Homo sapiens: one gene and its partners. The protein of the gene in region 4 purifies or fractionates together with the protein of the main gene of each other region. This does not show direct contact. Each region holds a gene or a part of one and is shown on either strand. Other genes may lie near its edges. The genes, in order: CD109, KIFBP, NSUN2, ACTR3, NFASC, ARHGAP17 and TPD52L2.

Evidence for each region.
Region 1: the proteins of ACTR3 (region 4) and CD109 fractionate together in Homo sapiens (co-fractionation; one large-scale study listed by BioGRID). This does not show direct contact.
Region 2: the proteins of ACTR3 (region 4) and KIFBP fractionate together in Homo sapiens (co-fractionation; one large-scale study listed by BioGRID). This does not show direct contact.
Region 3: the proteins of ACTR3 (region 4) and NSUN2 fractionate together in Homo sapiens (co-fractionation; one large-scale study listed by BioGRID). This does not show direct contact.
Region 5: the proteins of ACTR3 (region 4) and NFASC fractionate together in Homo sapiens (co-fractionation; one large-scale study listed by BioGRID). This does not show direct contact.
Region 6: the proteins of ACTR3 (region 4) and ARHGAP17 fractionate together in Homo sapiens (co-fractionation; one large-scale study listed by BioGRID). This does not show direct contact.
Region 7: the proteins of ACTR3 (region 4) and TPD52L2 fractionate together in Homo sapiens (co-fractionation; one large-scale study listed by BioGRID). This does not show direct contact.

Annotation. Positions count from the first base shown.
Region 1 is NC_000006.12:73,702,703-73,706,202, reverse strand, and holds part of CD109 (CD109 antigen isoform 1 preproprotein), read right to left. Parts: intron 1-3,500. UniProt on the Homo sapiens protein: Modulates negatively TGFB1 signaling in keratinocytes.
Region 2 is NC_000010.11:68,987,474-68,991,602, forward strand, and holds the start of KIFBP (KIF-binding protein), read left to right. Parts: upstream 1-1,329; 5' UTR 1,330-1,359; coding exon 1,360-1,785; intron 1,786-3,654; exon of another isoform or gene 3,655-4,129. UniProt on the Homo sapiens protein: Activator of KIF1B plus-end-directed microtubule motor activity. Required for organization of axonal microtubules, and axonal outgrowth and maintenance during peripheral and central nervous system development.
Region 3 is NC_000005.10:6,622,595-6,626,882, forward strand, and holds part of NSUN2 (RNA cytosine C(5)-methyltransferase NSUN2), read right to left. Parts: intron 3,076-4,288; coding exon 2,970-3,075; intron 692-2,969; coding exon 620-691; intron 1-619. UniProt on the Homo sapiens protein: RNA cytosine C(5)-methyltransferase that methylates cytosine to 5-methylcytosine (m5C) in various RNAs, such as tRNAs, mRNAs and some long non-coding RNAs (lncRNAs).
Region 4 is NC_000002.12:113,959,235-113,963,522, forward strand, and holds the end of ACTR3 (actin-related protein 3), read left to right. Parts: 3' UTR 1-3,362; downstream 3,363-4,288. UniProt on the Homo sapiens protein: ATP-binding component of the Arp2/3 complex, a multiprotein complex that mediates actin polymerization upon stimulation by nucleation-promoting factor (NPF).
Region 5 is NC_000001.11:204,974,677-204,978,964, reverse strand, and holds part of NFASC (neurofascin isoform 1 precursor), read right to left. Parts: coding exon 4,142-4,288; intron 3,695-4,141; coding exon 3,547-3,694; intron 2,295-3,546; coding exon 2,170-2,294; coding exon of another isoform or gene 2,141-2,169; exon of another isoform or gene 1,819-2,140; intron 1,285-1,818; coding exon 1,240-1,284; intron 1-1,239. UniProt on the Homo sapiens protein: Cell adhesion, ankyrin-binding protein which may be involved in neurite extension, axonal guidance, synaptogenesis, myelination and neuron-glial cell interactions.
Region 6 is NC_000016.10:25,008,516-25,012,803, reverse strand, and holds part of ARHGAP17 (rho GTPase-activating protein 17), read left to right. Parts: intron 1-4,288. UniProt on the Homo sapiens protein: Rho GTPase-activating protein involved in the maintenance of tight junction by regulating the activity of CDC42, thereby playing a central role in apical polarity of epithelial cells.
Region 7 is NC_000020.11:63,874,963-63,879,250, reverse strand, and holds part of TPD52L2 (tumor protein D54), read right to left. Parts: intron 3,436-4,288; coding exon 3,376-3,435; intron 1-3,375.

The DNA of each region.
Region 1 (3,500 bases), on a different chromosome or scaffold from region 4:
TGTGCAATTTACAAGTCGGTAAATAAGTTTTCCTAAAACTGTATTTCAATTTTATTCTTCATCTCAATTTCATACCTCAAAATATTTCTTTCCTTAATGATTCTCTTCTATTTCTTTCTTTCTTCAAAGAAGAAAGTATGAGGGTTTTTTAAGGATAATCCACTTGCCTCTGCCCCAATACTGATCTCACCACTTCTAACCCAGGAATTATCCACCCTCTCCTTTGCCTTAACCACTTTCACCTTTCTAATGTGCCTTTTGAGAGACCGTCCACCTCTCTCCTTTCAACTACCAAACTTCTGGAAAGAATAAATTTTGATTATATTTTTCACCATCCATTTATTCCCTCAAATTTGCTTTTGCTTCCAACATTCAACTTAAAGCCATTTACTTAAGCGTCACCAATGTTCTTTCCTCTGTCCTCCTCTTCTCTGACCTGAGAGAATTGATTATTAACTATTAAACCTTCCTTCTTGGAACTTCTTCTTCCCTTGGCTTCTGAGACATTTTCAATTTACCCTTCTCTGATTGCTCGTTGTCTATTCTATTCTTTTCTTTTCTTTTCTTTTCTTTTCTTTTTCTTGAGACAGGGCCATGCTTTGTTACCCAGGCTAGAGTACAACGGCACTATAACTGTAGCTCAAGAAATCCTCCTGCCTGAGCCTCCTGAGTAGCTGGGACTACAAGCACATGTCACCACGTCCAGCTACCTTTTTTTTATTTTTAGTAGAGATGAGGTTCCAATATGTTGTCCAGGCTGATTTCAAACTCTTGAGCTCAAGCGATCTGCTCACCTCAGCCTCCCAAGTTGCTGGGATTACAGGCATGAGCCACTGTGTCTGGTCTTTTTCCCTTCATTAACTTATTTTCCTCTTTCCAAGCTTCTCTCAAAAGACTTGTTCTTTCCATGAGCTCTGTCTCTCTTGTGCATCTTATGTATTTCCAGGACTTCAAAATATTGTCTGCCTCTATGAAAATAATGCCTAAATCTCTCTCCCCAGCTGCAATTTCAAAACTATCTGCTGGACATCTCCACCTGGATGTCTCCCCAAACTCATATCCAAAGCAGAATGAAACATCTTTTTAGAAAATATATACACAAACCCCTATCTCCTTTTCATAACTGCCACACCAGCCAGCAGCTCTTTCCTCCGGCACACCCTTCCCGTCTCTAGTACGTGAAGTAACTGTTCCCTCCAAAGGCCAAATATGTCAGCAGAGGTGGGACATTTATGAATGGACATCTGTATAGCTCTGGAAGTAAAAGATAATAGTACCAGGCACAGGCTCACATACAAGAAGCACTATTTACAAACCGCATTGTATTTTTTATACAAAAAATAAAAACTCCTCTAGCCTTCTGCACTTTTAATATTATATTATCCTTCTGGGACCTCTGAATGTCCTCCAGTGCCTTCCTTTCTCTTATTCCCCACTCCCCATTCATTCATGTTTCACATACAGCAAATAATCAATAAATAATACATTAATGAGAAGAAATGTCTGTGGGGAAACAACTAGTTTCAGCATTATAAAGCCCTCTTCACAGGACATAAAGGATCAACAGTAACCCAGCCCAAATTCTTATGGGATCTGTTTTCTATTTCCACCACAATCCTTCAGTGAGTCACTAGGACAGTGACTCATCCAGTGCTAGAAGAGGAGCAGCACATGTTTAACTTGGAGTTTAAAGAATCAGTGTGTTCACTTTTAACTTCACCCAATCGTTGATTCACAATCAAACCCCAAGTCATGTTTCTCTGCGGCTGAAAATGAACACCAGCGCTTAGGGTTGAGGGTTGCTTAAAAGCAAACATGAAAGTCCACGAGGAGCCTTCCCTCCGCCGCCATGAATCATCACAGGCTTGCAGGGGCATGCTACTCACCCTCGAGCTTTCCAGTATTTGGTCGAGTACAATTTGTGAGATACCAAAGGGCAGTTGTTCTCATTCTAATGTGACTAAGAATCACCTGTGGTCATGGTGGAACATAAAGGTTAGATTCTCTTTTTTTTTTTTTTTTTGAGATGGAGTCTTGCTCTGTCACCCAGGCTGGAGTGCACTGGTACAATCTCACTGCAGCCTCTGCCTCCTGGGTTCAAGCGATTCTCCTGCCTCAGCCTCCCAAGTAACTGGGACTATAGGCGCCCACCACCACACCTGGCTAATTTTTGTGTTTTTGGTAGAGACGGGGTTTCACCATGTTGGCCAGGCTGGTCTCGAACTTCTGGCCTCAAGTGATCCACCTACCTTGGCTTCCCAAAGTGCTGGGATTATAGGCGTGAGCCACCACACCCAGCTGAGATTCTTGATTCTTACCCATGTCTTGAGGGAGGCCATGAATCAGCCTTTTTAATAAATACAATTTGGACTCTGAGAAACAAAGCAACAGAATTTAGTTTTTAAAAGGTCTATGAAGCTTCTAACCCAGCCCCCACCCCTTATACAGAACAAATAGTGCATAAAGAGCAACTCCACCTTGAGCTAAAATAAGAAACTTTCACAGTATGCAAGTAAGCATTTTTAAACTCCTTAGTTAGCCTTATTTTCTTCCATATCAGAAGAATCAGCATTTGTAAATATATCTTAGGTCTTAAGCTCAGCTCTCCATATGTTAGGAAACTTTCGTAGAGTATACTGGAAATAGCACTGGACTGCAAATTTGGGAAACTGCAATCTGTTTCCAGCTCTGCCACCAATAAGTGATTTGACCTTGGGAAAATCCCCAGATCCCATGCCTCACCTCAGTCTCCCAGCCATATATTAGGCTATTGAATTTGCTTATCTTTGAGGTCCCCTCCAGCTCCAAAACTCTATGAGGCTGAAAGTAAATTAAGAGGAGAGCTGGCATTTCATTTTGTAATTCTTTCGATTCAAATTAGATTTCATTAGATCCAGGTCTATCTACTGCAAGCAAATGTGAAAATGATTTTAGTGGAAGACAACTGCAACATTGCATCAATATCCCAAAATCAAGGAAATAAAAATACTTCACTCTCTTCCCAGCAATAGAAAACCTTATGGTCTCTGGACCTCAGATACAACTAACTTCAAATTCAGGCTTCACCATTTACTAACTGGGTTAACTCAGAAAAACTAATTCTTCTCTCTTTGCCTCAATTTCCTCACCTCCAAAATGAAGACAAGAGTATCTACTTCATCAAGTTGTTAAAATTAAATATAGTGCATAAAGTCCTTGGCACTATGAGGAAACTGGATATTTAATATGTTAAATCCCTTCCAATCCCCTCCTAGGGATGTGTCTTTTATAGAGTTCCCGGTTCAAGATTGTCACAATAGGTGATTAATAATTGCCTTTGACATAAACTGTTGCTACTCTCTTCTAGTAACAATAGCTACCATTTTCTTGAATAATTCCTTTGTGTTAAGTGCCTTGAATATGTTACCTCATTTAATCCTCACAATATCCATATAATTGTATAAGGCAGAAACCACTATTTTTCAGATGATGAAACTGAAGCCTAGTGAGATCATGACTGC
Region 2 (4,129 bases), on a different chromosome or scaffold from region 4:
GTTTAGGAAGGACTTTTTAGGAGCATTAACACTTAAAGGATAGACGTTTAATTTTATTTATTCTTCAGAATAATTCTGTCGAGGTAAGTAGTATCATTCAGATTTTACTGTGGGAAACCTGAAGCTTAAAAAAGTTAACTTGTCAATAAGAAAGCTGGTTGGTCTGAGGTTCAAACCATATGTCTATGAGCTCCCAAAATCAATGCTCCTTTGTATGTCTCAAAGCACTGTACACAGCTGGTGCTTAATAGTTAAAATCTTCTATCACCCCTCCCCATTTGACTTGATAACTTAGGAAGGTAAAAGGCATGAGGCGGCTTTCACAGCTGTGGGACTTAGCTCTTGTTACCTTGGGCAGTTGTACAGATTCCTACAACCTGTATTTCAGGGTCGAAGTGAAAATATTTGTCTATCACTGAGTGTTTTGTATATTTATGGCTCTCGATCAAGAGATTATGTGTCAATGATAATAATCAGCTCTTGGCTACATTTCAATTTTTTTTCTTTTATTTTACTTTTAAGTTCTGGGATACATGTGCAGAACATGCAGGTTTGTTACATAGGTATACATGTGCCATGGTGGTTTGCTGCACCTATCAACCTGTCAGCTAAGTTTTATGCCCCGCATACATTAGGTATTTGTTCTAATGCTCGTGTTTTCTTTTTTTCTGAGGCAGTCTCGCTCACTGTAACCTCCACCTCTTGGGCTCAAGCCATCCTTCCGCCTCAGCCTCCATGGTAGCTGGGACTACAGTCGCGCGCCACCACGCCCGGCTAATTTTTTAAAAAAAATTATGTAGAGATGGGTCTTGCTATGTTGCCCACTCCAGTGGGCATCCCAAAATGTTACTGGCATCCCAAAATGTTAGGATTGCAGATATGAGCCACTGCGCCTGGCCTTTTTTAAAAAAAGTTTTATCCAGTGACAGGCTGGGCTATACACTTAATGTCTAAAGGTTTTTGCCTTTCAGTTCATATCAACGCGAGTAGAGTTAGCTAGCTATGTTTGTAAACAATATTCCGATATGCTTCGTTAAAGTAAGCCGATATTAAACATTTATATAAATCCATCCTCACAGGGTCAATCTGGAGATAAACTCACCGCTGCAGGGGGCGGGGAAGGAGGTGGGAACACGCTCATTGACAACTTCATTTCCATGAGAATGGTTGCTGTGGTGATTGCTGCGTCTTCCCATTGGTCATTGCCGAGCGTATTGCGGTTCTCCGGGAGGGTTATATTGGTTCCCATTCCACAGCGGCCGCAACGTGTCGAGAGCCGTAAGTAAAGTGTCGCAAAGCAGAAGGAAGGCGGGAGTCCCGACTGCAAACATTGAGGAAAGCCAGGCAGTAGAGGCCGCTATGGCGAACGTTCCGTGGGCAGAGGTCTGCGAGAAATTCCAGGCGGCGCTCGCTCTGTCGCGGGTGGAACTGCATAAAAATCCGGAGAAGGAACCATACAAGTCCAAATACAGCGCCCGGGCGCTACTGGAAGAGGTCAAGGCGCTGCTCGGCCCTGCGCCTGAGGACGAGGATGAGCGGCCTGAGGCCGAGGACGGCCCGGGTGCCGGTGACCACGCCCTGGGGCTGCCGGCTGAGGTGGTGGAGCCCGAGGGGCCCGTCGCCCAGCGAGCGGTGAGGCTGGCAGTCATCGAGTTCCACCTCGGGGTGAACCACATCGACACGGAGGAGCTGTCGGCGGGGGAGGAGCACCTGGTGAAATGCCTGCGGCTGCTGCGCAGGTACCGGCTCTCGCACGACTGCATCTCTCTCTGCATCCAGGCGCAGGTGAGAGCGAGCCCGGCCAGGCCGGCCCCTGTTGGCAAATGGCGAGGGATGGGGAGGAGCCCCTGCCAAGGCCAAGGGCAGACGTTGTAAGGCGCAATTCGTCCCCACGTTTTTGTAGCTCTGGACTGAGTCCCAAAGAGCGTCTGTGGTCTTCAAAAAAGCCAGTCTTATGGACTTATTGCCTTGTAACTAGATCTCCCACAGTCGGCCGTCCCCAGACTCCGTGTCCACCCTCGTCGCCCACACCAATATCGCTTGCTGCTGCTTCACTTAGACGTGGCGATGCATTGGTGTCCGAGACCCTCCTACATCGTCATGCGCTTTCCTCTCCACCAGTCCAACTCCTGTTCATTCTGTTAAGAAAATCCAAAGTAATTTAAATCTTAACGTCTCAAGGAAATGACAATGACCGGAGTACATTCTTTTTTGGTTTTGTCTTGTTTTTGTTTTTTTCTTAGAGATGGGGTCTCACTGTGTCGCCCAGGTTCGAGTTAAGTGGCACCATCATAGCTCATTGCAGCTTCCACCTCTTGGGCTCAAGCAGTCCTCCTGCCTCAGCCTTCATAGTAGCTGGAACCACAGGCGCATGCCACCATTCTTGGTAATTTTTTTAATTTTCTGTAGAGATGGGGGTCTCACTATATTGCCCAGGCTGGTCTTGAACTCCTGGACTCAAGTGATCCTTCTGGCTCACCTTCTCAAAGTGCTGGGATTACAGGCCTGAGCCGCTGTGCCTGGCTCGGAATACATTCTTAATTCAAAATAAAATGTCCAAAATCTGCAGCTTCCTTTCTTACCAAATTCATTTGTTTGCATCTTAGGGAATTCTTCCCCATTCTTGAAAACCTATCTCAAGAATCACTTCCTTTAGTATTAATAACTTTCTTGGGACCATTTTGGGCCAAACTGATCTCTCCCTCCTACCTTTGAATTCTTATAATACTTTTTGTTTCCCATTTATATGGTACTTGGTTTCTTAAATAAATCTGGGCAGGGCACAGTGGCTCCCATCTGTAATCCCAGCATTTTGGGAGGCCGAAGTGGGAGGATGGCGTGAGGTCAGTAGTTCAAGACCAGCCTGGGCAACAAAGTGAGACTCTGTCTCTTAAACAAAACAAAACAAAACAAAAAACCCACAAAACTAGCCAGGCATGGTGGTACACGCCTGTAGTCTTAGCTACTGGGGAGGCTAGGTTGAGCTGGGAGGATCACTTGAGCCCCTGGAGGAGCCATGATCATGCCACTGCAACTGCAGTCTGGGTGACAGAGCAAGACCTTTTCTCAACAACAACAAAATCCACATCAATATTCTAAAGTAATATTGGTCAACACCTGTGAAAAGAAGGGGTGAAAAAAAGAAAAATACTTTAAAAAGTTAAAATAATATTGGGACAGGTGAACATGGATGTTTATCACAGCAGTGTTGATTATTAAAGAAGGAAAATCGCAGGGCTGAGGCAGGAGGATCGCTTGAGCCCAGGAGGTCAAGGCTGCAGTGAGCCAAGATTGTATCACTGCACTCCAGCCTGTGCAACAGAGTGAGACCCTGTCTCAAAAAGCAAAGAAAAGGAAAACAATATAAATGTCAGTAGGAATATGATTAAATTCCGTTACATCCAAACAGAAGAACAGTACACAATTATTAAAAATAATAATTTATATTAACAAAAATTGGCAATATGAAGAGGGAGGAAGAAGACTATAAGCCATATTTAGAATTATGTAGAAAAGGCCGGATGTGGTGGCTCACACTTGTAATCCTAGCACTTTGGGAGGCTGGGATGAGATGATCACTCGAGCTTAGGAGTTCAAGACCAACCTGGGCACATAGTGACACCTCATCGCTACTAAAAATAAGAAAAAAAAATTATTCCAGGCATGGCTGCTTTGCTAGGCAGTATGTTCTTTGGGCAGCCATCGGGGCCCCAACCACCACCGGGGCTCTGGGGCCAGGCTTCCTTTACTTACCAGCAGCTCCAGGGCCTCTGAGACCTTCTAACAGTACTTTGGTGGATGACATGGAGTCATCTTTCCAGACTTGCTTTGCCTCTCCGTTAAGTCAGGACTATGTCAATGGCAGCAATCAGGAAGAAATTGGAACTGGTGTTGATCGGTGTATACACAAGTTTCTGGATATTGCAAGACAGAATATTTCTTTCCTACAAAAAAGATTGCAATTATCTGTCCAGAAACCAGAGCAAGTTATCAATGAGGATGTCGATGTCTCCGAACTAAGAAATGAATAACATTGGAGACATGCACTGGTCCAGAAGCACTTGACAAAGCTAAGGCATTGGCAGCAAGTGCTGGAGGTCATCACGTGCAGTACAAAAAGCTAGCTGAC
Region 3 (4,288 bases), on a different chromosome or scaffold from region 4:
CCCAGCACTTTGGAAGGCCAAGGCAGGCGGATCGCCTGAGGTCGGGAGTTCGAGACCAGCCTGACCAACATGGAGAAACCCCGTCTCTACTAAAAATACAAAATTAGCAGGGTGTGGTGGTGCGCACCTGTAATCCCGGCTACTTGGGAGACTGAGGCAGGAGAATTGCCTGAACTCAGGAGGCGGAGGTTGCAGTGAGCCAAGATCGCGCCACTGCACTCCAGCCTGGACAACAAGAGTGAAACTCCATCTCAAAAAAAAAAAAAAGAAAAGAAAAAAGAGCACAGAGTAATGCTTGCCATACAATGAGCTCTCAATACATGTTCACTATCATTTTCAACCTAATTTAGCCAATCACCATCACTGAAGACAATCCATATGGTAAACAAATCAGTAAAACTAAAGGGGAGAAAATTTTCTAAACCATAAAAATTAAGTAGGACAAAAAAGAAAAAAAAAAAAAAAAGAAACTAAGATACGTACATATCACTCTCTATCCAAAGTGAAAAGAAGAAAAAAAGGACTAATTATATTAAGAAAAAATGGTTTCATCAAAACAAACAGGCATGACACTGGTAACAAGCTGCCCGCCCCCACGTTTCTAGTTGCTATATGCTACCTTATGATGAGGCCGCACGTTGAGGAGCAGTGGTGGGATCATGCTAACAGCTTCTTGACGACTAATATTTCCCTTGAGGAAAAAAAAAAAATCAGCAACAATTAGGAAAAAAAAAAAAACCGCAGACAATTTCAATCTTTGGCATTGTTTCAAAGGCAACAGGAAAACAGCACATAATCTTATACAGAATGAGAGAACTCATACTATCACACAGAACACTAAATGAGATGGATCTGTACACTAGCGGACAAATGGTTGCTATACCATTCAAATATTAGAAATTCAGGTATAATACCAACTTCCATGAAAGAAAAGGGACTTGAAGCTTACAGAGCCCCAACTCCCCATAGCAGTAGAGCACAGAAGCTAGAGGGGCAGCTCTCAAAGACAGAAATGCTATTAAATATTTAAACAAATACCTTCAACAGACAGCATCAACTTAGGACAGAAAGTGACTGTCAAATGGTTTTTCCTTCTTGCCTAAAATTCTATTTCTTAGTCCTCCACTATTTTCAGACATAGCCCATGCCCACTTTCTATTTCTCATAACTACCTTTCAAAGAGATGAAGACATCAACCACTGCTTCCATCTTTCCATCTTTAGACCTTCAATATCTAAAATTCCTCACCACACTCCCTGCCCTCTGTCTTCTCTAGTCGGCCAGGACATCTGTTACAAGGCAGAACTATTCAGGTGCAGACAAAATCCTCCTGCCCTGCCCAGCACTAGCCTCAACCACACCTCTACTTTAATCGCCTTGAAGCTGAGGCTTCTGCTCCAACACAACCCTACAAAAGCTGGGACTTCTGGAAATGAACAGCCACCCAGGCATCCATCACTCACCTTAAACTCAGGCATGTGACTGTCAAGAGCCTTAAATACAGGCTTTTACACTGATGGCTGCTAATTTTCACCTCATGGGTTTCTGGCCAGCATGAGTCTGTGGTGATTCACTCACTAGGCACACTGATTCCAAGCTTTTGAGTTATACGTGTGATCCTGATATGCCTGCCTTCTGTATCCATCCAAGGTTTTGATTAAAGCATTAAGTAAGATGGGGACATCCCGGCAGACAGTAACCAGATTCATGACCACCCTGTGTAGATGTTTTGTGGCCAGCTTTCCATAACCCAGAGGTTATTGCCATTCATCTCAAGAGCTCTCATCACGCTGACTCCTAATCAAAAACCTATACTAGTTCCCTACAACATTTGCTACCCACCCTAAACTCCCATCTCCTCCATCTTCCAAACATGCCAAAACCTGGCTCTTCCAACCTATCCATGTGTATCACACCCCACAAACCCCACGCTCTCTTCCAAGTGCAAACCTGAGCTGTTCTCTAGCAGCTTACTGATCTCTATTTGGCCTTCCATCTAGATTGAAAGTTGAGCAAGAGAATCCTTTCGTGCACTGGTCTCAAGTACGAAATGGGGTTATGTGGCAGCACTTAGTTCCTGGTTCTTGTTACTATTCAGGAAGGAAAAGCCAGGCAGACACAAGCCCAGTTTAGTCGGTTACTTAGATGACAGAAGGCCAAAGTGAAAAAGAACCATAATCTGGTGACACACAGATTTACTAGAAGGTAGTAGTTTAGAAAATAGGAAGGACGAAACCTCTGATTTTAAATGTGAGACTAAGAATTCCAAAAAAAATACCCAAACTTTATGGGCATTCATTGAATTATTTAGTACATAAGCAAATAGCTGTTTTGCTGGGGATGCTCTGATGCTAAAGGTAAAAAGCTCAGCACCTTAACTGCACTCAAGGAATGTGGGTGGCTACGGAGAATGTGAAGACAGATGCCGTCCTGTGAGGACCAAAGCTGTGCTTAGGGGTTTTGTGGTGCTTAGGTGTTTTGTGGTTACCAAGAGCAATGTGTGGTAAGAAAAAAAAAAAACACAGTAAAAAGTAAAATCAAAAGCTTCATTTTTAGTAAAATAAATCAATTTTAAAAAACAGAACCAAAAACCTATTCCCTACCAAGATGGCCTTAAAAACATACTACTTTTTATGTACAACAGGCATCTGAAATGTGTACCTAAGAAGGAAATGAGAGTGCAGTGCTCACCCCAACCCTATAGCCATCCAAATACACAAGCAAGAGGAAACAAGAAATTAACTAGCTGGCATCGATATCCTTACTAAATTTCATGACTAGATAAACCAAACAAGGCAACGGATATACAAATAATCAGAAATCACAGGTGGTGCACACACTGCAGTTGTCTTTACTGTGTGTGATGTCCACCTACTGCTTCTAGTGACAAGAACCTAAAAACAGAACTACACTACATCTATGCATTTACAGCTTTAAGGAAACTAGCAAGTCTAAAGAAATCAACTTACAGATTCTGTTTCACTAACTAGAAACTGATGAAACTTTTCCAAGTGTGGCGATTTTCTCAAGATTTTTCGACTTAAATTTGTGTGCCAGGCAAGTTCTTCAGGATACCTGACCAAAAAGAAAGCAAAACATTTATGGATTATAAATACTAAAGTCGTCTGTTGACAACTTTGTGCTTCTATCAGTCGCATGCCAAATGAGACTTCGAATGTTGTTCTCCCTGCTCCTATTCACAATCCTCTACGGACAGTCAGCAACACTCAGAGATGTCGCTGTAGGCTTAAGGAACATGGCTCTAGCTACACCGTGGCCCAATCAGAAACAGGAGAGCCATGGGGGTTACAAGATTATGCATATTACTGTAAAATTATAATGATGAAACGCTCGAGATCAGATGAAAAAGCGGACACTCCTCTGCTCTTCACCATTATAAGGTAACAATGGTAAGGTCATCAGAAAAAAAAGATACAAGATGACTTACTTAATGTGCAGATCACACAGAATCAAAATAATGCAGTGTCAGAGTGTCCCACAAATACCTGATTAGTTTTTTAAAAAATATATTTTTCATTATTTCTAACACCAGTTCAATAATGCACTAAAATATTTTACATACCAAAAAAATCCTACCTTGGAAACCACTAATGCATTAACTTGAGCTCCTAGGCTGTTACCTATATATAACTAAGAATAAAGCATTTCCTGCCATCATATCTGTGAATATATTTGAACTTTCTATAAATGATGACATCAATGTTATTTTTATTTTTTTTATTTTTTTTAATTAGGGGAGAAATGGGGGATACTAAAAACACTGCCTTTTTTTTTTTGAGACAGTCTCACTGTCACCTAGGCTGGAGTGTAGTGGTGTAATCTCAGCTCACTGTGACTTCTGCCTCCTGGATTCAAGTAATTCTCATGCCTCAGTCAGCCACCTGAGTAGCTGGGATTACAGACGTGTATTTTCAGTAGAGATGTGGTTTTGCCGTGTTGGCCAGCTTGGTCTCGAACTCCTGGCCTCGAGTGATCCGGCCGCATCAGTCTCCCAAAGTGTTGGGATTACAGGCATGAGCCACTGTACCCCACCCAGGATGTGCTTTGAAACTTGGCCTGCACCTATACAGGCATCTGCACCGTACAAATGAGCACACTGATGTCATGCAGCACCATGCTCAATCCAATGCCAAACCAAGTGTACCACGTCACACGGCCATAAATCTTAGTGTAGTTTCAGCAATTCTCACTAAACCTGAGATGCAGTAATACACTCAATTTAACAATGCAGGCTCACAATGTTTCCATGCGTCAAATTGTAGCTAGA
Region 4 (4,288 bases):
ATAAATGTAGCTTTCTTATTTTACACAAATAGGAACTTACTGTATATACTGTTCTGCACTTTGCTTTTATTAAAGATCTTTTGATAAAGAACTATATTGATAAGCAGTAAAGATGTCATGCTCCTGGCCCAATAAAATATTGTTAGCATTGTCATAAATATGTCTTTTCCACCGGCGATGGTTGGGTAGTTAAGTGAATAAGCTAGAAAGACATGTTTATAAAGCTATTTGATGACAATCTCAGGCATATTTATACAGAGATGTTCTTAACTGTTTGCTACAAAAACATGAAGATCAAAAACTTTCTTGAAGCTTACGCTTAACTTATTTGGGGAAACAAAACTCCAGCCCTTCTTGTGTATGTTCTGATATCCCTTTGCTCTACTTTTAGAGGAGTGAACCCTAATAGGATGGTAGCAGCATTCTTGTTTCTTTATATCTCTCCTCTGTGATTGTATACCGTTTTTTCAACTTAAAGCAACTTCAGCTGGAAATATGTAGAGGTTGGCCAAGGTGAACTAAATAGTCTGTAACATTGATTAGATATCAAGCAACGTGAGCATGGTAGCAAAAGCACTAACTGAAGCCAGTGATTTAATTTTTAATTCTGATTCTGATAATTGATGATATAGCTCCTCGAACTTTGTTTTTTGTTAAAACTTGGAAAATATATTTGTATTATTTTGGACAAATTATTTGAACTCTCTGGACCTTGATTCAATTTATATATAAGGTAAAGGCATTATACTGGATTATCCTGCAATTTCTTTGAGTTGTTAGAATATAATGTAGCTTATTAATAGCAATATTAGCAGTGTAGTAGATTCTGACTGCAAAACCTAGCCTTTTCTATTGATTCATTAGTGGTAGTAAAGGTATTATCTGATTTATCCTTTTTAATAGGCAGTGCTTTGATCAAGTGGGAAATAGTAATGGACAAATAAAATCAATGATCATTATCTAACTTGATGCCTGCTTTTCAAAAAGTGAGCAAATTTCACATCTTCACCCTTAGACATTAATTCATGGCACCTACTATAAGTACTCATCCTCTTCTTACCTATCTTCTTTTCTATAGGAGATAAAGTGGTTATTCAGACCCCCCAATACAATTTTTTGGTTTGTTTTCACAGCTACTTAAAAGATTAAAATAACTATTCTTGCAGATATTTCTAGGAATATTTTTAGAAATAATATGAAATACAGGGATAATAGGCCAATTATGATCTTTATTTTTAATTTCTACAGAAAAGTACTAGAGAATATATCTATAGAAACTTCTTTCAGATAACCCTAAAGATGATACTAGAATGTTTATAAAATTATTGAGAAGATTATTTGTGTTATAAAGCTTATTTGTACCATAGTAAAGGATGTTTTTGTTCCTCTTCATTCTGGGCTAATCTGTCAATACTGAAGTCCAGTCTTTTCCCCCTTTTCTTACCAGCTCAACCTTGATTCCTGTGACCCATTCTTTCTGATCTTTCGTAGTTCATAGTCACCAGGCATGAGTACCTTGGATAGCCCTCTGAAGTCTGTTACCACCCAGATTTCCAACTCGGGTTAATTGGTACTAATTCTATTAGCTGGTATAAATAATCCAAAATCTGTGCAGACTCTGGGAGCAAAATGTTCTACTCAGTTTGGAATACTGTGCCTTAAAATATATTTCATTGTAACAGCACCTTGTATATATAGTTGGCCAAGGACAGAGTTGTTACAAGTTACGTGGAACTTTCATAGCAAATCTTGACAGTAAATACCTTGTTCTTGTATTAGGTCTATATCCTGAATTGACCTTTAGCAAGAATCTTTAGATCTGCTGGAGGGCTGGGATGGCTTTTGGACTTCAGTGAAAAAGAATTTCTGCTACTCATTGTTGATAACGCTTCAGTACTGTATAAATGTTTATCCTTTTCCACGTAATTTGTTTTCTATGATATGAGAACTTTTATTATAATTTGCCTCAGTCTTGATAGAATCTTAACAAAAATAAAATCTGTGGTCGTCTGAGGTATTCTCCATGCTATAACCCAGTTTAGCTGATGCATTTGGAGCTTGGGTGCTGAAATTAAATATAACCTATTTGAGTTAAGGATTTATTACTAGTGCTCCAGTGGTCACAGGAACAATAAAAAAGGAACAACGATAGAAATACGTGATCTAGGAAAGAAGGCAACTGAAAAACCTGAAAGAAAAAAAATGAAAGATTAAAAGTATACGATATTCTATTTTGATTTAGCAATTACTTGTTTTCTAGTGTTCTGTCAATTTTTGGTGACTTTTATAATTACATTAAAACTAAGATGCTGAATTAAAATAAAGTTTCTCTTTTATTCAAGCACCAACATTCACTTATATTACCTATATATTGCATCAAGTTTTGAGCCTTCAATCCCAGAAGCATTGATTGACTGTCTACTGTGGTTCAAGTACTGTGCATAAAGATGAATAAATATTCTGTCCTTGGCTTAGTCTAATAGTAAAGGCACTCTTAGAGGAGGGACAAATATTTTGCCTAGATAAGATTTGAGAGATAGTAAGTGCGGAATTTCTCTTCATAAAAATGGTAGTGTTAGTTGTTTAGAGGGAGAAGTCCAGCTATGTAAGGTGAAAGTGGGGCTTATAAAAGTGGATCTATTGTTTAAAAATTAGTACTTTGCTCCTAAAATTTTTACCTAAGTGTTACATCCAACAACAGATGAAAGTAATTCGACAGTAGCATCTGCTTTATTCATTTCATATTTCCAGTGCCTGACATATTGCTTGGCATATAGTAGTTTAGTGGATGTGTTTGATGAATGAATGAGTAAAAATTATTTTTCATGTTAAAATAAAACTTTGAATTACATGAGTATACAACTTTTGTTCCTTCAAAATACCCATATTTGTCAAATATGACCGAATTACGACTTTTTTTCTGTTCCACTAGTTTCTACCTTAGAAGTGACATTCTGCGTAAGGTAGTGGGGGATTACTAAGTGATCATGACTTTTCTGAAGCAGGTCTTAAATAATTATCTAAGCCTTCAGTCATTTCAAAATCTCTGTAGTGTAAATGATCACAGGCTCTAAATCAGATTGTTGTACAAGGTAATTGACATGTCCTGAAATGTAACATTCAACATTAACAGTAGAAACAGGCCTCATTTCTCCCTCTGGCTTTTATTGATCAATTTTGATATTGTCCAGATCCCATGTTAAACCACTTGATTTAGAGATGACTTAATTCTAAACTTCCTCCATTTTTAATTAATAAGATTCAAGGTTGCAGTAAATTGTTAATCTTATTTGGAATTATATTAGAAAGTCGATATCGGAATTGGAACCACACATCTTTTTCTTATTGTGGGTACATGGGATCTTTCCCAAATAAATTCCTGAGCAACAAGAAAATCTGAGACTTGTTTTAAATGCTAAAATGATTAGTTGGAATAATGTATACATTCATGAGATGACTAAAGCACTAGTGGGGTAGTTTCTACTGCAGTAGACTGATTTTTCTTAGCCCAAACCTTGAAAGATGAATGTTTTAGTAGATGGAGAGTAGGTGGGGATGATATTTTAGATATGGCAGAAGCAACTTGAGTTACAGCAATTGGGGAGGGGATTAGAATATTGTGATTAGGAGAAGTGAGGAGAAGAGTGGGAGAGAAGACTGAAGGATATCTGACACCTTCAAACACACCCTCAAACACAAACATTGGCTAAAAAAGTTGATGCAGTTCAGGGTGAAATCACACACATGATTGACATAAATAACATTGTGGAAAAGTGACTTTGCAAAGACCACACAGGTAGTTGCAGAATAGAACTTACTGGTTATAATTTTTTTGATATTTTACTGAATAGCATATGGTTTATTAAATTTTTTTCAAAATTAATTTGGCAACATTTCTTAGCTTCTCTGACTCATTCTATTGGGAAAGCTGATAGCAAGATTCCTGTGCTAGACTACTAGAGGGAGGTATCAGATGACCAAGTCATGTCTGATACTATAGTTACCAGATAGTTACCAGGCTAATGTGCTGAACTAAGGAAGGAGCCTAAAACTCAGCAGTCTTTTTGAGATTGGATTGGACTTTATGAATAGGCAATGAGCTCTTAAAAACGACATTCCATATACAGAAAAACTATGGGGATTTCAGACTGCCTAATTTAGCTTCTCCACGGGGCATACTTGAGGTCGTTCACATTTTGGCTATGTATCTCCACATTGGTGCTAAGTTTGTGTACCTCGTTTCTGATTTCACTAATGCTGAAAGTTCAACTTGCCAGTGACCTAAGTG
Region 5 (4,288 bases), on a different chromosome or scaffold from region 4:
GTGGCAGAAGACACCACGCAGGCCTCCTGAGTTAGAGCAGGTCCACCCTTGTGATGGCCCTAGCCCTGGACAGCTCCCTGACGGGCTGTCTTCGCTACCAGCTGGATCCAACCCCAGCCTGCCCTGAGGGGTGAGCACAGGGACCACTCCCTTCCCACAGGGGCCCAAGGGAAAACAAAGAGGAGACTCCTGAAATCCCAGCCCCCCCCCACAAAGAATATCAATGGGTGTGGAACAAGGAAATAAAGGGGCTTATGCAGACAGAACTGGGACCAACGCCATTCCGTCTTGGTGGATCTTCTGAGAGTGCAAGCATTCAGGAATGCCACCCGTCATCAGACCCATGCTCACGACACTTAGGAAGGCTGATGAGGGAGTGTGGGATTCTGTCCCATTTTCTCACATTAATTGTCCTCTACTTTGTGTGCCAAGGCTCTGAGGAGATGGGAACCCAGGAGAGGGCTTGGCCTGCTGAACATGGCAGATGGGTTAGGGGAGTGGGGGCAACAAAGAGAGGGGATCAGACCAGGGAGGAGATGGAGACTTGGCTTAGGCATTTCATTGATGGACAGCAGGACAGAAGCCTAGCAGGCTTGCAAACAGGGGTGAGGGCAGCACCTTTTTTAGGGCATGAATCTCACTGGGACTGCTTTAGTGGGTCTAAGTGCCATCCTGGCCTGGGATAAAGACATCGGCTACTGAGTGGTACGGGTAGGCAAGATTTTCTCTCCATCTTGACTCCCTGAACCAGGTATTTCCATCTTTCAGATGGTCACTAGAAGGACTTGGAAGGTGAGTCCTACAGGCCCACGTTCACGTATGTGTGGCATGTGTGTGTAGATTGTAAATGGATAGAAAGCAATAGATGCAGGGAGGCTGAACAATGAGTTTCCAGGTGATGTGAAGGGAGCAGGCTTTCGCATTCCCTGCAAACAGGACCTGAAAGACTGCTGGGAGGACAGGCCACCCTGAGGGAGCGGTGAGTGTGGATGGAGGCAAGGGATGGGGTAAAACAGCAGCCGAGAACTTCCGAGCTCACCCTGTAAGGAGCAGGAAGCCCAGCAAAGGGCCGTGGGGAGGTGGACGTGGGCAACTCAAAGGAGGTCCCATGTAGCCAGGAGTGCTGCCCACAAACCTACACACTGTCGCCCTTTCCCAAAGTGGCTTCCTTCTCCCAGACTCCACACCCTGGGTGCCAAGAGAGGGCACTGGCAGGGGACTGTGATTAGTGGGAATTACCTTTGGGCAGGGCAGCCAAACGGTTAGTTGGAGTGGCCTGATCAGCTGCAAAGGTAAGACGGGTTATCCAGGTTAGCAGGTTATCCAGCATTAAAGGTGTTCTAGAAGGATGGGGGTAGGCAGCCGAGGCTTAAACAGCTGCCTCTGGGCTGAGGTGTTCTAGGCAGGGCTGTCCCCGTCCTTCCATGGGGAATCCCCTACCCTTATAGAGGCCATCTGTGTTTCCTCCACAGCTGGGGGCGGCACCTCTGTTTCCTTACCATCCCAATGTGACTATCGTGTCTGGGCCCACCCTCTCTGCAACTGTGCCTCTCCACTGCGCCAATGCTAGTGGCAGTAGGGCACCCACGGGGAGGCAGAGGTGACAGAGGACCTGCTTGCCTGGAAGGGAGAGGCCTCCTTCCTCTTGGTTTGGGTTAGCTTAGTATTTACAGTCCAGCCTGGGTGCAGGACAGGAAGACACAACGTCATCTTGCTTAGTGCATAGCATGTGATGAAACGCTACCAAAACCCAGGGATGGAGCGGGAGGGAAAGGAAGGCTGGCAGAGGTCATTGGAAGCACAAACACAAACTCAGTCTTGCTTTAAGGATGGATTGTTTTAATTGACTTAGTGGTGGAGTTAGCTGTAAGAAAGGTAAAATGATCACAACGAGAAACCCCTCTCCACTTTCTCTATATCACTCAGGCCCCTTTCAGTTGAGACGTGGGGAAGTTAATGACTCCACTCAGGAGGTAACCTGTCCAGCACAGCTTGTTCTGAAACTGGCAGCTCCCTAACCCTGACATCACGAGGCAAGAAGAGATCACCACGCCTGACCCGGCCACTTGACTGCAGGCACTGCCCTCGGAACTGCCCCGGGCCACTGCTTCTCTGGCTGCTGGGGAGGGGGTGGGGCTGGTCAGTGCCAGGGTGAGCATGGGCAGTTACCTAGCACGGTGAGGTAGGCCTTGGCCAGGTCTTGGTCTAGCTCGGTGCTGGCGACACACGTGTAACTGCCCTGGTCCCGCTCTGCCACCCCAAAGATGGTCAGGGAGTCGTCTTCCTTCTTCATCCTGCAAAGGTACCGAGGAAGGGTTGGGAGGAGGGGGTAGGGGAGTGCTGAGTCCTGCCCATTGCTTTCTCCCTAGAGGGGGTTCTCGAGTCAGGAGGGCAAGGGAAGCTCCTTCTGGGGGTATGAGGCTCCCTCTCAATGCTTTGACAGAGGTGAGGTCTTCACAGTCACCTGGAGCACTCATCATACTTGATGGAGGGGAACAGAGAGTGGGCGGAGCTCAAGTGGCTGTGAAGCACGTTTGCCACCTTCAAATTCTGTACGTGTGCCTGCCTCTGTGCCTTTACTGTGCTGTGCACCCCTCCCAGATGAGGGCACCATGAGGCCCATGACCCCAAGGTAGGTTGGTATTCCTTCTCCTCTCATACTTGTAGCTTTGTCTGTCTTCAGCCCAGACTTGTCTCCTCTGCACCCATGCTCAGGCCAGCCTGACCCCAGGCTCCTGGGAACTGTCTCCTATAGAGAGGGGAGGCCACAGAGCAGAATGGGGCTGTAGAGCTGTCAGCACTGAGTGCCAGAAGGTTTACAGAGGGGAACACCCTCTGCAAAAAGTCAAATGATGGCTAGAAACCGCTGGTACCGTGTCCAACTGCAGGGCCCTGCACAACTTTGCTCCCTCGGGGTGGAAGAAGGTAAAGCAAAGTAAGCCCTGGGGAGGGAGGCTCGGAACAGTGGTTCTCAACCCTGATGCACACTGGAACCCCCAGGGGGACTTTTAAACCCTGCCAGTGTCCTAAGTCCTACCCTACACCAATGAAATCAGGGTCTGAGGAGCGGGGCAGGCGTGGGTGTGGTAAAAGCATGCCAGGTTCAGTCAGGGCTGAGAGCTGGCTCAGATCAACCCTGCCCTCTGCTGAAGATTAGGGGTACTGCAAATAGGGCTGAAAGGCTGGAGCCTGGGATGCAGCAAAGGAGGAAAAGAGAAGACAGGGGCAAAAATGAAAGGGAAAAGAGGCGAAGTGAGGGGAGACAGGGAGAGGAGAAGTGAAGAGATTGAGAAGAGGGAGAGAGAGGAGGTGTAGGAGAGAGAAGCAGGGAGCTGGTGGGAGAGAGGGAGGTTGTACAGGGTCGGTGGGGGGGTCTCCCCTGAAGCAGGGGAGTTGCCCAGGCCATCACCCCCTCTGCAGAAGCTCCTTGGTGACATGCATGACACGGGTTCCCTGTCCCTGTGTTCTTCCATGTGTCACCAACAGCAAGGGAAAAGAAAATGCGCCTCAAACTAGCACTAGGAAGGGGGAAGGGGGAAGAGAAACCTGTTTCCAATATAGAGCGGCTCGTCATCCTTCAGCCAGGAGACGGTGAGTTTCAGGGAGGGGTCGTGCTTCACCCGACACTCCAGCTGCACCGTGGTGCCCCTTCTGGCCACCTGGTCCTCGGGCATCCGGTAGATCCTGGTGGGGTCTGTGGAGAAGCCCAGAGCACTCGCCACTGGCCTGTTCTCTGCCCAGCATCCCCATGCGGCCACAAAGTGGCATATGTCTGCCCTCGAGGCCTTGGGCCAACTATGGAGTGGGGCACAAACAGTATGCTATGGTATGAACGGAGCAGAGTTCTGGGTGGGTAATCCCCAAAGCAGATAATGCCCCAAATCCACTCCATCTGGCTCAGGAATATATGATGTAATTTCTGGGCTGGTAGTGGGGAGTTGGTGTGAGCAGAAGGTTTCCCTTCCTAATTCTCTTTGGACCACACTGATCCTAAAAGGACTCCACAGGTGCAAACTGGGCAGCCCACTCCAGGTTAAAGACAGGTGTGGTGCATTTTCAATGTGAATATTGTATGTGGATAACTGCCAGCATGGCCTCCTTGTCCCTCTCCAAACTCCCACTGGCGAACCCTCTCCTTTACCTTTGACCTCCAGGCGGACTTGGTTTTCAGCTTTGCCCAGGATGTTGGTGGCGACACAGGTGTAGATGCCCTGGTCCTCTTTGCGGATCATCTTAATTTCCAGACTGCCGTTCTCATAAACATGGTAGTTGCCACCATCCAGGTTGC
Region 6 (4,288 bases), on a different chromosome or scaffold from region 4:
CCAGTGGAAGCTGAAGCTATTACAGAACTATTAAGGGTGTGGCAATTATGCACCCAAAGTCAGAACATCTGTTTTTAACTGGGAAACCTGTTGCTTCCTTGCTGTTGATTTCCTAGATGTGTGTGTGTATGTGTTTTCTGCTTAAGTAATCAGAAAGGACTAAGGAAGATAAACGGAGGCTGGAGAGTGCCTAGAATTGTTACTGCTTGGAAGTAGGTGGTTGGTTGGCCCCAGAATCAGGATTCTGGGTGTTTTTAGGTCAAGATGAAGGCTACAAAGCAAAGGGTTTTTTTGTTTTCGCCCCTGCGATCTAGGTGGAGAAGGAAGTTATATATGTGAATGTCATGCCCATCGTGTTTTGGTTTATCAATTTGTGGAATTCTAGGTGGTGTCTTGCAGTGAGATATTCTCCTCAGAAGGGAGACCTTTGAGTACTTTCACTGTAAGGTTCCAGGGGAGGGACTTGTAGAGAATTAGTAATGCCTGGAAGGAATGAGTTCGCATGATGCAGTTTGTTTACGATGGGTGGGTAAGTCTATTTGAGAAGACGGCCTGAAACTCACAGGGGCAAGGCTTATGAGGTGGTCTCATGGTGTGAGTGTCCCAAAGAAGAGAAGTAGGATGGTTCTTTTAGTCCACCTGCCTTTTGTTGATTCATGCATTCAACAGACACTTGTTGAGCCTACACTGTGTCCTGTTATCCAGGGTATTAAAGAATCAAAGGTGAATACGGGCATGGTTTCTGCCCTGAGGGAGCTCAGGAGATACGTGGAAGAGGTAGGCAGGCAAAAAATAATTATATACATGAGATAAGTGCTTAAGAGGGATGGCTAATGCACAGAGCAAAACCCAGCTGTCATTGGATTGAGGGAGGTAACAAAAGCTTCCCAGAGGAGAAAATCTGAGCACCTTTCTCTGCCTTCATTTTCAAGCCCTTATTTCAAATATCTCTTGTATTGATTAGGTCTCTTTTGGTTGTAAGAAAACCCAGTTCATAGCAAAGACGGGAATTGATTGGCTCATAAGTGACCAAAAGAGCCTCTAATAAGTAGTGTGGCTGCAGATTTGGCTTCTTCTGGGGGTTCCACTCTTTTTTTTTTTTTTTGAGACGGAGTCTGGCTCTGTCACCCAGGTTGGAGTGTAGTGGCGCGGCTCACTGCAGCCTCCACCTCCTAGGTTCAAGCAATTCTCCCGTCTCAGCCTCCCAAGTAGCTGGGACTACAGGCCTGTACCACCATGCCCGACTGATTTTTGTATTTTCAGTAGAGATGTGGTTTTGCCATGTTGGCCAGGCTGGTCTCAAACTCCTGCCCTCAGATGATCTGCCCACCTTGGCCTCCCAAAGTGCTGGGATTACAGGCATGAGCCACTGCGCCTGGCCTCGGTTCCACTCTTTAGGTAGGCACTGTGTCCACTGGGAGACTTCCACATCTTCCAAGTCTCAGAGGGAAAGAATACTCATCTCGCAGTCACTGTGGCCCGAGTCCCAGGATTGGCTCTGAATGCTTCTGGGTCACATGCCTTTCCCCAGAAATGGACTGGAGTCAGCGCACCCAAACCATATGGACTGAGAGTGGATGGTAATGGGTGGTAATCAGGCAAGAAATAAAGGTCATGGTGTGTCTTTTGTAGCCCTGCTAAAAAGAGAGATGTTTTGTTTCTTGAAAACCCTTAGATGCAGATCATCACCAATGGTGTTTTTGGGGAGATGATGTCTTGAGTAGAGGAAGGAGTACACTGGGATGAAGACCTTGAAGTTACAGAAGTATCAAGGAGAAAAAAAATTTGAGAGACAACTAGGAGAGCATAGTACTGAGGCTCTGATAGGGAGTGTCTCCTTGGGTGTTGATTTCTTCCCTGACTGAAGTTTCCCTTGGAGGTCTGAATGCTTTCACAGATAGTTGTTTTTTGAGAACCCAAGGTTGTAAACCCAAATGCCTAGAGGGCGAGGCCAGTAAAATGAATCAGTGCTTTGGGCCATGTGAAGGCCTCAGGGGACCTGGAGGACTGTGTCCCACCAAAGGGGCTGCTGTGGTAATGTAGGCCCAGTGTGGACCACCTGTGGAGTTTTCCTGAAATCTGCATTTTAACTAGCTGGCGTTTAATCCAAATTAAACTACGGGGACACTATATGCAGCTGAACAAAATATTTCTGTGGATCACCCAACTGCTTGTCTAGAAGGACTCAGAAATTGACAGTCCCTCTTTTTCATTTATTCCCCTGTACCTTACCCTGATGTTTTCAGTTCTTTGGATTTGTTGAAAAACAGCTCATCCTTTCTTTACTAAAATCTTGAAAAGGTCTGATAGTAACAGTCTATAACATTTCTATGGTGGTTTAGTTTACAAAGTGCTGTACTAAACCACCTGGCTTGGATTTCGTCTCCTGACAATGATAACTTCTCTCTGACAAAGATGGAAACCTGGCTGGGTGGGGTGGGGTGGCTCACGCCTGTAATCCTGACACTTTGAGAGCCCGAGGTAGGAGGATCACTTGAACCCAGGAATTTCAGACCAGCCTGAGCAACATGGTGAAACCCGGTCTTTACAAAAAATACAGAAAACTAGCCAGGAGTGGTGGTGTTTGCCTGTCTCAGCTGCTTGGGAGGCTGAGGTGGGAGGATCAACTGAGCCTGGAAAGTCGAGGCTGCAGTGAGCTGAGATCATGCCACTGCACTCCAGTCTGGGTGACAGAGCAAGACCCTGTCTCAAAAAAAAAAAGAAAAAAAAGAGGAAGAAACCTGACTTTCTAAGTTTGCACAGTTACTGAGTAGTGGCTGAGGCATGGCTTGGGTCCAGGGCCTCTTCCTGTGGTTCCCAAGTGCTTTTGAGTACAGGAACTGGGCTGCCTCTTCACCAGGGAAGGATTAGTGTTTATTAATGTTTATTAAACATCTTCTGTGCTTATGAAGCTGCTGGGCTTGGTGCTTTGCATACTTTTATTTCATTGCATTCTCATAGCCACCCTCTGAGGTGATGTTACTTATTTCTGATTTAATGATGAGGAAGCCAGAGATCAAAGAGGTCATCAAGCTCGCAAGAGACAGAGCCGTGGACCCAAACCCAGGTTTCTGATTCTGCAGCAGCTATAAATTCTGATCACAGAGATCTAATGACCTCTAGGAGTCTTCCACTCCTAGGAGGTATGTAGAATGGACCACTCACTAGGTAGTTGGATCCACTACCAGCAATGTGAATTCTCACACTGAGTCAAAATGTGTCTCTACCTACTGATCCCAGAACAGTCCCCTGCTGCCGAATTGAATGAATCTCATCTCTCTTCCCTGAGTCAGCCCTGCCTGTATTTGATGATCACAAACCTTATCCTTACGTTGCCAGCAGTAACATTCTGCATCCCTCACCCACTCCACTGTGTCCTTTTCCTCCCACTGATCTTCACTCTACCTTTCCTTCCCCCCACCCTTTTTTTTTTTTTTTTGACGGAGTCTCGCTCTGCCGCCCAGACTGGAGTGCAGTGGTACAATCTCGACTCACTGCAACCTCCACCTCCTGGGTTCAAGCGATTCTCCTTCCTCAGCCTCCCGAGTAGCTGGGCTTACAGGCATGAGCCACCAAGCCTGGCTAATTTTTGTATTTTTTAGTAGAGATGGAGTTTTGCCATGTTGGCCAGGCTGGTCTTGAACCCCTGACCTCAGGTGATCCACCCACCTTGGCCTCCCAAAGTGCTGGGGTTACAGGCGTGAGCCACCACGCCTGCCCACTCTGCCTTTTCTAGGGGAACTCTGAACAGTATTTCTGAGAAGGGATAGGTAATGTGTGCTTTGCTTCAATCTGAGTGGATTCCATCAACCTCTCCATAGAGCAGGGTGGAAAGAGGTCCTCTTGTCGTTGCAGCAGCTTCTCAATCTCATCTTTTATGGCCTTATTATGTAGTTTACATGTTAAGAAATCCAGAAGTATTTATAGTTGAGTGAAAATCCATTCTTTACTGGGGGGAAGAAATGAACTCTAAAACCATAAAAATGATGAACCAGTAGAAAATTTTCATCTGTAAATTTGAACCATAAAAGGATATGTTCATTTAGCATCATTTTTATATGTGTAAGCGGCATGTTACGCTATTATGGAATTGCCTTTGTAGCAGAGTGGACGAGGCAAAACCTTCCAAGTTTGATTATGGCCTAGGGCGCTGCAGTCAGTACGTGCACCGTGCATTTTTGTCAGACCACAGGATGTTTCACCTTTATCATTCTATTTCAGTTTCTCAAGTGTAGGTAGATGCTGTAGTAACTAGTGAAGTACAAATCCATGTAAAAATGTTAAACTC
Region 7 (4,288 bases), on a different chromosome or scaffold from region 4:
GGGTCACAAGGGAACCTCCTCTAGAAACAGGAACCTCCAAACTGGGATGGCCCTGGAAACAATGGGCATCACCTGCATAGCCTGAGGCCACCACCAGCGCCTCCCTGGCCTTCTCTTCCTACAGCAGGTCCCTGCCCAACAGCTGTGGCTCTGACCTCTCCCTTCCCCTTCTCAGTCCCATCCTGGGCCTCCAAGGTGGCGGCAGCAGCTGTGAGGCCCCCTTCCAAGGCTCACAGCGCTGCAGGCCTGTTCTGAGAGCGTCAAACACACAGGCACACACATTCCTCAGTGGACCAGAAGGCTGGGTTGTTATTACTCCATGACAGATGGGGAAGCTGAGCCCGGGAGGAAGGGGCAGGGGTCAGAGCCAGCATCTGCACCCAATAACTAGCTTCAGCTCTCCTTGAGAGCACCGGGCCGGGCAACCCCAGCCAGCACCCATTTGGGAGTTCCTAAGACCTTCTAGGAAGAGAGCCCTGGACAGACAGCGGTTTCGTCCCACTGCCAGTGAGCTGTCCCCTGGGCAGCACAGGGCATCTGGGGGACATCCTTGCACTCCCCCTCTCCTGAGTCTGTCTCTGGGGGCTGCCCCCACTCCCACTCAGGATGGACAAGTGATCCAGGCCTGGCCAGAGCACACCACCTCCAAGGCCGCAGCCATTAGTCCAGGGAGACCCATATGGGGCCACACTGTTGGGCTGCAGCAGTGGGGGCAGGGACTTCTCTGCCTGGTGAGTGCTCCCACCTCCCTGTTTGGTTGATGCTACCTTGAGTCGTGCTTTCTGTCACCTGCAACCAAAACAACTCCAAGTGAACCAGCTCATAACTGCAGGATCTATATGATGCCCCTCTCAGCACTGAGGTTTTTAGTTACCTCTGCCTATAAATAGAATGCAACAGGCAATTGTTTCACCACTCGCAGAACACAGCTGCTCTCGCATTCAGACATGACCCACTGAGAATGTGGCCGCATTGCAGCCTCATGGGGCCAGGCACCAGTGCTATCCTCCACCCACCGGCCACGTTCTCCTTCCCGTCCATCCTCCAGGGCGCCAATAGCTGAAAGGATCTACAAACACGTGGGTCAGGATGCAGGGAGCTTTTACTGCCTTCCCCTGCAGAGCTCTGGGCAGTGGAGGTACATCTACAGCCCATCTCCTGAAGCTGACTAGGAGAGGCACCAGCCAGGAAGAGCACGCGCCATGGCCACATCCTCAGGCCCCACCTCCCAAGCCGCATCCCTTCCGTCTGGGCCGTCCCGGCAGAAACCACCGCCCTCGGCCTCGGCCGTCCCGGCAGAAACCATCGCCCTCGGCCTGGGCCTTCCCACCAGAAACCATCGCCCTCGGCCTGGGCCGTCCCGGCAGAAACCATCGCCCTCGGCCTGGGCCTTCCCGGCAGAAACGCTTCCACTCTGGAACCGTCAGTTGACAGCTCTCGCCACAGAACTCAGGGGAATGGCCTCGGCCAGGTGATGCACTGGCCATATGCTTCCATGCTGAGCCACAGGTTTCTCCAGAGGGGTCGGGACGCTGAGTGTTGTAATAAGCTCTCTAAAACACTATTTATTTGAAATAGGATCCCGGCAGCTTTATGTCAGTTGGTTTTACAAAACAGCACTGAAGTCTCCTAAGACTATTTTCAGACTGAGTCTGCACTGTGCGTCCGCCTGATGCCCAAACTGCAAGGATGACCGTCACTGTCCCAACCTAGGAACCATCTGCTGCCCAGCAAAGTCACTGTTCAACAGCCCGAGACACAGCCCACCAGGGTCCCTAGAACACCCTGCTCAAGCCGGGTGCAGTGGGTCACGCCTGTCATCCCAGCACTTTGGGAGGCCGAGATGGGCGGATCACGAGGTCAGGAGATCGAAACCATCCTGGCTAACACCATGAAACCCTGTCTCTACTAAAAATACAAAAAATTAGCCGGGCGTGGTGGTGGGCGCCTGTAGTCCCAGCACTTTGGGAGGCTGAGGCAGGCGGATCACGAGGTCAGGAGATTGAGACCATCCTGGCTGACATGGTGAAATCCTGTCTCTACTAAAAATAGAAAAAATTAGCCGGGCGTGGTGGCGGGCGCCTGTAGTCCCAGCTACTGGGGAGGCTGAGGCAGGAGAATGGTGTGAACCCGGGAGGCGGAGCTTGCAGTGAGCCCAGATGGCGCCACTGCACTCCAGCCTGGGAGACAGAACGAGACGTTGTCTCAAAAAAAAAACCAAACAAACAAAAAAAACCCAGGGCAACATGCCATGAACCACCCGGGTCCCCAGAGCACCCAGATGTACAGCTGGCTGCTGTAGCCATGCCCACAAACCGCCCGGGTCCCTGGAATACCCAGGGCAACATGCCGTGAACCGCCCGGGTCCCCAGAGCACCCAGATGTACAGCTGGCTGCTGTAGCCATGCCCACGAACCACCCGGGTCCCTGGAATACCCGGGGCAACATGCCGAGAACCGCCCGGGGTTCCTGACACCAGCCTCCCACCGTGACACCAGACGCAAAGGCTCCATGTGCACGCAGTGCCAGCCTGGTCCCCCAGGACCTTCAAGACAAGCTCGGCAGCAACTGCTTCCTTTCAGACCAACATGGGAGGACTTTCTGCCCATGTTCTGTGGCAACGATTACAGCGCTTCCTTCTAAATAACAGATGAAAAAATCCCACAGAGACTATTTAAAAATATTCCCCTCCTCAGTTTAAAGACGTTATAATCAGATCAGAGCACAAGTAAATGAAGTGCTATTATCTAGTTTAAGGATCTCCAAATATTAGGAGTCACTCTGAACAACACCACTGACACACACATACAAAACTATCCACACTTGATCCACACTGGCTGATGCTCTGACAATGCAGTGCCTCCCAGATCGTGAGGATTTCAAATTTCCACCAGCATATCCTACACCATGCCCTCCACTCAAGAACTACCCCTAAAGGAGGAAAGGAATTCTGAGAACCCAACAGCTGGAGCTAAGCAGGGAAAAGGGTTAGGGTTAGAACAAACAAAAATTCGCCACCAACAAACCCAGGCCAAGTGGTGTTGTCCAGCTTGTGCACTGCCGGAAGCCAAGGAGCTCTATTAGTTAGAGATACAGCCAGGACCAGTGCAGGCCTCTTACATAAGGGACGCATATCAGGCAGAGGGGAGTTTTAAGTGTGGTCAGGTGGCTGAGTGAGTTTCTCTCAGCTACTATTCCCTGTTCCACAAAAGTTTAAAGGATAGTTTACCTGAGAGAAGAAAAGTTATAGGAAGAAAAAATAGCCAGCAAATACCAAAACAAGCTTTGTGCCAAGTGTGCACAGCCCCCTTCCCCGACTGAGTGTCAGGAGGCGGAGAGGAGGAAGGAGGAGGTGCTGATGATACAGGCACTCACAGGTCTGACTGGGTCACTTTCTCATTCCACTCTCCAAGTTTCTCAGAAGTTTTCACATAGCTAAAAACAGAAAGTCTACAGTGAATTATTTAGAAGAACAATTTTAACTCAGGCATCAAACTGCAGGTGAAGTTCCAGGGAAGACAGAGAGGGACCAGCTGGCAGGAACATCAACTCCACAGACGGCCCAAAAATGGGGTCCACTGCCTCAACCAGGCCCTGTGCAGGCCCCAGGCCGCCAGGTGAGCTGTGGGTATAGCGGAACTGATGTTCCCTTTTCTGTCACCTGGCAGTAGCCCCTGGTCTCTCGCTAGGAGATTCTTGGGCAACAGCACTGCTGTGGGGGACTGGAAGGGCACAGCCCACAGCTCCAAAACACCCTTGGGATTCAAAACTTACGATGTCCTAGGACAAAAACATGGGCCTCTCATATGTGAGATTTATGAAATGTGACCTGTTCTGTCTTTGTATAGGAACATGTCTTCTGGGAAACATTCCACAGCCACCCCAACCTTGAAGGGTATGTTTCAGAGAAGCCACGTGGACAGGGCCAAGTGAGAAAGCAGCACTCCCCAAATTCAGAGCTGAGCGACATCTGGGACAGGTGTCCCAGGGTTATAGGACCACGTCGTCATGTAGGACCACGTCGTCATCGGGGAGGGTCAGAGTCCCTAGGGTTGTGGGACCATATGGTCCTATATATAAATATATATATATATATATTTTTTTTTTTTGAGACAGAGTCTTGCTCTGTCACCCAGGCTGGAGGGCAGTGGCATAATTTTGGCTCACTGCAACCTCCGCCTCCCGGGTTAAAGAGATTCTCCTGCCTCAGCCTCCCTAGTAGCCGAGATCACAGGTGCGCACCACCACGCCCAGCTAAATTTTTTTATTTTTTAGTAGAGACAGGGTT